Linked DNA regions of Homo sapiens. The protein of the gene in region 1 interacts with the protein of each later gene in a pairwise test. Each region holds a gene or a part of one and is shown in the gene's direction. Other genes may lie near its edges.

Region 1 (3,500 bases):
TGTTTTTTTCAGGCTCTGGAATATGTAAATCCTGTAAATTGAGCCCTGAACTGCAGCAAATCCATCACTTGCCTTTCCAGGACATATACAACTTGCTCAGAGTACAGGTTTATTATTTTCTAAAATACCTAAATCAAGCAACACAGTGCTTTTCCATGTCTCATTTATAGAGTGTCAGCCTAAAATCATTAATTTTCTTTCATCTAAAATACATTAATGTGTCCAGAAGCAAAGGAGAAATAAAACCATCTTAAATTGTTGCTCAGCTTCGCTTACACTTCTCAGGGGAGGGTATGGGCTTAGGGGGAAGAGAGGTGTGGGGAGGGCAAGAAGTGAGGGTGTGGAGAATCAGGGGAGAGGAAGGAGGTGGACCATGAACGAGGAGATGGGTCAGGCTGTTTGCTGCTTGCAAAATGAAAATATGGCAAAATAAAACAAGTAACAAATACTGGAGATATCACCTAAGTAACAAACTGGTAAAGAATAGCTAGTTAAATTACTGAAAATTCCAGCAATTCTTTGGCTTTAACAAAGGTTACTATACTATTTCTACATATAGCTATATATATGTATAAACACAAAAGAAATAACAAAATGAAAGTGTTTTAGCATACTTTAAAATTAAATATTCAAATGATCTAGTCAGTTGTAACTCCAAGTGAGAAACATAATAAACGTTCTCTTTTTTAAATACTTTCTCAAATCGAAAGTTGTATAAGAAAGTGCCAGTGTTTGGCTGGATTGGCCAGTGCCAAAGAACTAGATTCCAAGCTCTGAATATTTAAATAAATTGATAACTAATTAGTCACATATAAGAGAAGTTTAGAGTAGACCATGGAGCAGCAAACCTTTTTTTTATAAAGGGCCGGGTAACGAATGTTTTAGGCTTTGCAGGCCTTACAGTCTCTACCTCAACTACTCACATCTGCTGTTGTGCAAAAACTACCAGAGAACACAGAAACAAATGACCGTGATGGTGTTCAAACAAAACGTTATTTATACACTGAAATGTGAATTTCATATAATTTTTATGAATATTTTTCTATTTCCCTCAAGCATTTCAAAATGTACAGCCATTCTTGGCTCCCAGTCCATACTAAAACAGGTGTCTGACAGGAATTAACCCTCAGCTGGTGGTTTGCTGACCCACGGAATAAATGATAATAAACAAAATGAGTCCGTATTATAAGGCAGGCATTTTGTAGACACCAGCTCTGGTCTTTGAAAGGCACTGGTATTCCAGCTTTACACAGGAAGAGACTCAAGAGCAGAAAAATCAGGTTGCCTACAGTCTCTGAGTGTCTGTGTTCAAAACCCATGCTGACTTCACAAACCAGGTTGTTTCCCTGCTGTGATAGTCCTAATTTACTGACCACCTACTATGCATCAGCACCATACCATTCACACGCATAATGCCATTTAGGCTTCACAATAACACTTTCAATACGATATCACCATACTCATTTCATAGACGCAAAAGGTGACTTCAATAAGCTAAGTATACGATCCAGGTCACAGACTTTGTAAGTAGTGGAGCTGAGAGACACACCTAGGAACTTACCCCAGAGCTTTCCACTGCATGGTGCTGCTTTGTAGAGCCCACTGGTCAAAGGTATGTATTCTAGTAATGGCAATTAGTAATTATTGGATGCTTATCATGTGCTAAGCACTAGTTTAAGCCCTTTGCCCATGTGAACTTGTTTAATTTACACATTGCTGTGAGGTGGGTATTATTACTAATGTTGTCCCCATTTATAGATGAGAAAAGTAAAGAACAGAGTTTTAATCACATGCTTAAGTTTCCATTCTAACATACCTTCAAATCCAAGAGTTTTGCTCCAGAGCCTTCATGCTTGACTGCTGATGTAACCTCCTGGTTTTCATCAAATTTCTCTCATCTTACTATACTAGTACATGTTCATAGTTCTTAATATGAACTGAGAGAAGCAAAGAAAGTTCTGTGATTATAACAAAGTTTACTATAAAAGACATTATTCTTTCTATTCCTCACATAATATACATGCACATGTACACAAAGCCAGGCCAGCATTCTAGTTAATCAGAACATTATTGAATTTTGTGTAGAATTCATTTTCAGGACTAGAAAAATTTATTCAGCTAAGAAACGTAAAGTCAAAATTTCAGTGGAACCTGTTTACAGCGGTGTGACACTAACTACAGCAATACAGCTTGTTCCTCTTCTGTGCACAGCTCTGTAATCTTGGATTCTAAAAACGGAAGGTGGTTCTTCTGTGGTTGTATAATTAGTATGTAACTAGTGTACAGTTCCATCTCTTCATAACTCAAGTGAATTTCCTCTTCAGTTGTGGTGTTTTTCTGTTCCTCCAAAGGGTGACTTCCTTCTACTTACAAGTGGAAATCTGTCCCACAGACTGTCCATGTTGTGGGGAGTCACTTTGTTTCATTCATTCACTCTTCTACTGGGTCATAGATCTATCTGTTGTATGATGACGCCAGGCAAGGCAGCATAGAGGAGACTACAATAAAGAAGGCATGGCTGTGCAGAGATGGAGGATTCATATGCATGTAGAGTTAGAATGCAGTGTTGTGTGGGCTGAGGGCTGTGACAGTGTCTAGATAAAACAATCTCCTATGGAAGGCTATCTTCTCCACAGTAGAAGTGGAGAAGATGGCCTTGGAGCTGATATGATTTTTGTCAGTTGAAGTTAGAAAAGGTGAAATTTTCTACAGAGAAAATGGCCTGAATAAAGGAGTGATGGTAGCAAAATATGCAAGGATTCAGAATTGAAAAAGCTCACATGAACTCAGACCCACCCAGTCCCCAAGACCCATCTGGTTTGTCAGCATTCTGGTGGTCTGGTTCTGGTCTCTACCTCTATCCATCTCATCCTATGAGAAGCTTCAACTTGGCTTTTCTCTTGTACTTCTGTTTTCATGACCATACTCTTAGATATTTTGTTAAAACCTGCATTAATTTCTGGCTCCTACCAACTCCCGTAGAGGATAAATTCCTATTCTGAGCCCATCGACCTCTGTGTCCTACTGCCTGATAGAGGCCTGCCTCTACCAAGAGCACAGTGAACACTGCTGGGCCTTATCAGTGTTCGCTGCTCACCACTTGCTTCTTTATGGTCATGCTTCCCCTGACCCTGCCCACTAGCACCTGCCCCCATTATCTGTTGTTAGACCTTCTTTGTTTAAAAATGTTTATAACTTTAAAAAGTGTAAGAGTAATCACTTGTTTTAATAACAGTATGATGATTATGTAAAAGAATGTCACTTTTGAGAGATGCATGTTGAATTATTTAGGGTTAAAGTGTCAGGATATCTGTAATTTACTTTAAAACTGTTCATCGAAAGAGTCAAAATTAAACGTTGTATTAAAAATGTGGCAAAAGGTTAAAAATTATTCTACCTGAAATATGGGTATTATTTCAATGCAGTAACATTGATGCTATTTTTCTACTTTCCAGTATATCTGAATTTATTTATAATAAATAGTTGAAAATAATAGTAAT
Region 2 (3,963 bases), on another chromosome or scaffold:
ACTTTGGGAGGCCAAGGCGGGCGGATCACAAGGTCATGAGATCGAGACCATCCTGGCTAACACGGTGAAACCCCGTCTCTAATAAAAATATAAAAAGTTAGCCGGGCGTGTTGGCGGGCGCCTGTAGTCCCAGCTACTCGGGAGGCTGAGGCAGGAGAATGGCGTGAACCCCGGAGGCGGAGCTTGCAGTGAGCCGAGATCTCTCCACTGCACTCCAGCCTGGGCACAGAGCGAGACTCCGTCTCAAAAAAAAAAAAAAAAAGAAAAAAGAAAGAGTGAGACTCTGTCTCAAAAGAAAAAAAATAAAAATAAAATCAATAAGTCAGTCTTGGAGCCAGCATATCTAGGCGGTGTTTGTGGCTAATGTTGTAGGTTAGCCCATATTCCCACCCCTTCTCCTTTGCTTTTCTCTGCTCTGAGGCTAAATGCTGCAGACTAGAATCCCCAGGCCCCCTTGCAGTTAGAAGTGGCATTGATACAGTTTTGGCTAATGAAATGTACACAGAAACCTGCTGGGTAATTTCTTTTCTTTTTTCCAACTATCCAGACTTATAGGAGATGGGGAGGTTTGTGCTGCAGGGATACTGACCTTTGGTGCTTTCCCTCTTCCCTACCTTGAATGTGGATGTCCTGGCTGGGAACCCAGCTGCCAGCTCATGACCAGGAGGTAACAAGCAGGAATAAAAGGCCACCAGAGTCACAGAGACGAAGCTGCGGCGTTACCGAGGTGCGAATCACTGTGATTCCTAGGTGCGAATCATCACCAGCAATCACTTCTCTCAGGACTCCTTGTTAAGAAAAATAAACTCCTATTTATTGAGACCATGAGAGTTACGTTGAGAGGTATATTGTTATTGAAGCTGACAATATTCAATGCCATGAGTTTGAAGATCATCCCTGGGTCATTAACATATAAGCAGGGAAGAAAATGTGGCCCGAAACAGTCTGGGACATGAGAAAGCAGTAGGAGAGGAAGCCCCAAGGAAAGGGGGAAGCTGCCGCGCGGTGGGCAGAGCCAGGAGCACCGGGCTGAGGCGGCCGGGAGCGCAGCGGCTTCTAGGGGTGAGTGGGACCCACGCGGCCCCACCTGCTCCTCCCGCGCGCGGCCCCACCCCCCTGCCCCGCCCCGCCTGGTTTATAGGTCCCGGCCCGAGCCTCCGGCCGCCCGCCGGGTTTGTCCCGCGATCCCCGACCATGCCCGCCGACCTCAGCGGTACTTGGACCCTGCTCAGCAGCGACAACTTCGAGGGCTACATGCTGGCCCTAGGTAAGGCGGAGGGGAGGCGGCGGCGGCGCGAGGCTCGCCGTGGGTCTCGGGATCAGGCGAAGGCGGCCGGGCCGGGCCTGTAGGTACGTCCTCTGTCCGTGCCTCCGCCCTGCTGCGCCCACCGTCGCCCAGTCGCCCCCGAGTCCGCTGGTCCTTGGCGCCTCCGTCCATCGGGCGCGGGACCCCAGTCCTTCAGTCCCCCAGTCCGTCCTTTCCCGCGCCCACCCGCCCCCCTGTCCCCACGGCCGTCTCTCCACGCCCTCTGTTCCCCCGGCCGTCGGTCCCCCACCCGTCCGTCCCTGAGTGCCCGCGTCCAGCCCCACGTCCGTCTCTACCCGCACGCGGCACACCTGCGGAGACTGCAGACTCGGGGTCCGGCCGGGGAGGGGGGTCCGGCCGGGGAGGGGGCGCCCGGGACCGAAGCCTCTGCCCGGCCACCCTCCCCGCAGCCGCCTTCCGTGCAGGCCCCGGGGCCCCGGGCGCGCTCCCGCAGCGAAGTCCCAGCAGCCTCGGCGCACCCGGAGCGGGTCGGGGATGCAGAATCCTGGAGCCAGCGGACGACCCTTCAGGTCCGGGCACCCGCGGGAGTGCAGAGCCTGGTTCGGCCCGGGGCGTGCCCCGACCGCCGCCTCCCACGAGGGCTGGGTGCCCGCGGCGTTCTTGCTCCCGGGGGCCCCGCGCTGTGCTTCCCGCCCTCATCGCGGTGCCAACGGTGCGCGGACTCTCAACTCACTGCAACCTCCGCCTCCTCGGTTCAAGCGATTCTCCTGCCACAGCCTTCCAAGTAGCTGGGATTACACGCGTGCGCCAGCCACCACGTCCGGCTAATTTTGTACTTTTAGTAGAGAAGGGGTTTCACTATATTGGTCAGGCTGGTGTCCAACTCCTGACCTCAGGTGATCCACCCGCCTTGGCCTCCCAAAGTGCTGGGATTACAGGTGTGAGCCACGCGCCCTGCCACGAGTGTAGTTTTTCTTGTAGCTTTAGGAATCTGGGAAGTTGCCGTGCCGGCCAATCCCTGAACCCTTGACCCGTGGGCAATTTTTGTTTTCTTTTTTTCTTTCTTTCTTTCTTTCTTTTTTTTTTTTTTTTTTGAGACGGAGTCTCGCTCTGTTGCCCAGGCTGGAGTGCAGTAGTACGATCTCGGCTCACTGCAAGCTCCGCCTACCGGGTTCACGCCATTTTCCTGCCTCAGCCTCTCCGAGTAGCTGGGACTATAGGCGCCCGCCACCACGCCCAGCTAATTTTTGTATTTTTTAGTAGAAACGGGGTTTCACCATGTTGGCCAGGCTGGTCTCGAACATCTGCCCTCGTGATCTGCCCACCTTGGCCTCCCAAAGTGCTGGGATTACAGGCGTGAGGCACCGCACCGGCCAATTTTTGTTTTCTTAACCTTAGGGCCCATCTTAGTTGATAAAGGGGCATTTATTTTGCTCTTTCATATCCCAAGAGATAAGAGTGTTCCTCTGGGTATGGGAAAAGCACCTCTCACTTGAGAGTCTTATGATCTTCTTCAGAGGAAGAGCAGAGAATTCTTTTATGGCCTGCTTCAGGGAAGAGGGGCAAAAGAAGGTCTGAGGGGGACCTTCCTGCTACTGTTATTTCCTCAAATGCCAAGTGATATGGTTTGGCTGTGTCCCCACCCAAATCTCATGGGAGTTGTAGTTCCCATAATTCTCATGTGTTGTGGGAGGGACCTGAGGAGAGGTAATTGAATCATGGGGTAGTTTTCCCCACACTGTTCTGGTGGTAGTGAATGTCTCATGAGATTTGATGGTTTTACAAGGGGTTTCCCCTTTCATTTGGCTCTCATTCTCTCTTGCCTGCCACCATGTAAGACGTGCCTTTTGCCTTCTGCCATGATTTTGAGGCTTCCCCAGCCACGTGGAACTGCGGCAGTTAAACCTCTTTTTCTTTATAAGTTACCCACTCTTGCCAGGCTCGGTGGCTCACGCCTGTAATCCCAGCACTTTGGGAGGCTGAGGCGGGTGGATCAACTGAGGTCAGGAGTTCAAGACCAGCCTGGCCAACATGGTGAAACCCCGTCTCAACTAAAAATACCAAAAAGAAATTAGCTGGGCATGGTGGCGGGCGCCTGTAATCCCAGCTACTTTGGGAGGCTGAGGCAGGAGAATCACTTGAACCTAGGAGGCAGAGGTTGCAGTGAGCTGAGATGGTGCCATTGCACTCCAGCCTGGGCAACAAGAGTGAAACTCTGTCTAAAATAATAATAATAATAAGTTACCCACTCTTGGATATGTCTTTATCAGCAGCGTGAAAATGGACATAAGGTGCCATGTTCTGAGGTCGCCTATCCAGAAACCCTTAAATCCAGAACGGTTTTCTGAAAACCAGCAACTGTGTTTCAACTTCAGATCTAATTTGTTAAAGTACTAAGTACTTACATCAATTTGTTAAAGTGCTAAGTACTTAGGTCACACTTATAGCACTAGAGTGGTTGTTTACATAATACTGTAATACTCTTTTTTTTTTTTTTTTTTTTTTAGATGGAGTCTGGCTCTATTGCCTAGGCTGGAGTGCAGTGGCGCGATCTCGGTGTGAGCCACTGTGCCCAGCCATAATACTATAATACATTTTATCTTAAGAATTAAGTTGGTCTGGGTGCAGTGGCTCACACCTGTAATCCCAGCACTTTGGGATGCTGAGGCAGGTGGATCATGAGGTCAGGAGTTCAA

What was found. The genes of interacting proteins can lie anywhere in the genome.
Region 2: the proteins of DAPP1 (region 1) and RBP7 interact in a two-hybrid assay, tested with the Homo sapiens proteins (one large-scale study listed by BioGRID and IntAct).

The regions. Positions count from the first base shown.
Region 1 is NC_000004.12:99,819,827-99,823,326, forward strand, and holds part of DAPP1 (dual adapter for phosphotyrosine and 3-phosphotyrosine and 3-phosphoinositide), read left to right. Parts: intron 1-3,500. UniProt on the Homo sapiens protein: May act as a B-cell-associated adapter that regulates B-cell antigen receptor (BCR)-signaling downstream of PI3K.
Region 2 is NC_000001.11:9,996,065-10,000,027, forward strand, and holds the start of RBP7 (retinoid-binding protein 7), read left to right. Parts: upstream 1-1,163; 5' UTR 1,164-1,194; coding exon 1,195-1,267; intron 1,268-1,617; coding exon of another isoform or gene 1,618-1,966; exon of another isoform or gene 1,967-2,025; intron 2,026-3,963. Other genes in the region: translation initiation factor IF-2-like, read right to left, coding at 655-788, 1,618-1,966. UniProt on the Homo sapiens protein: Intracellular transport of retinol.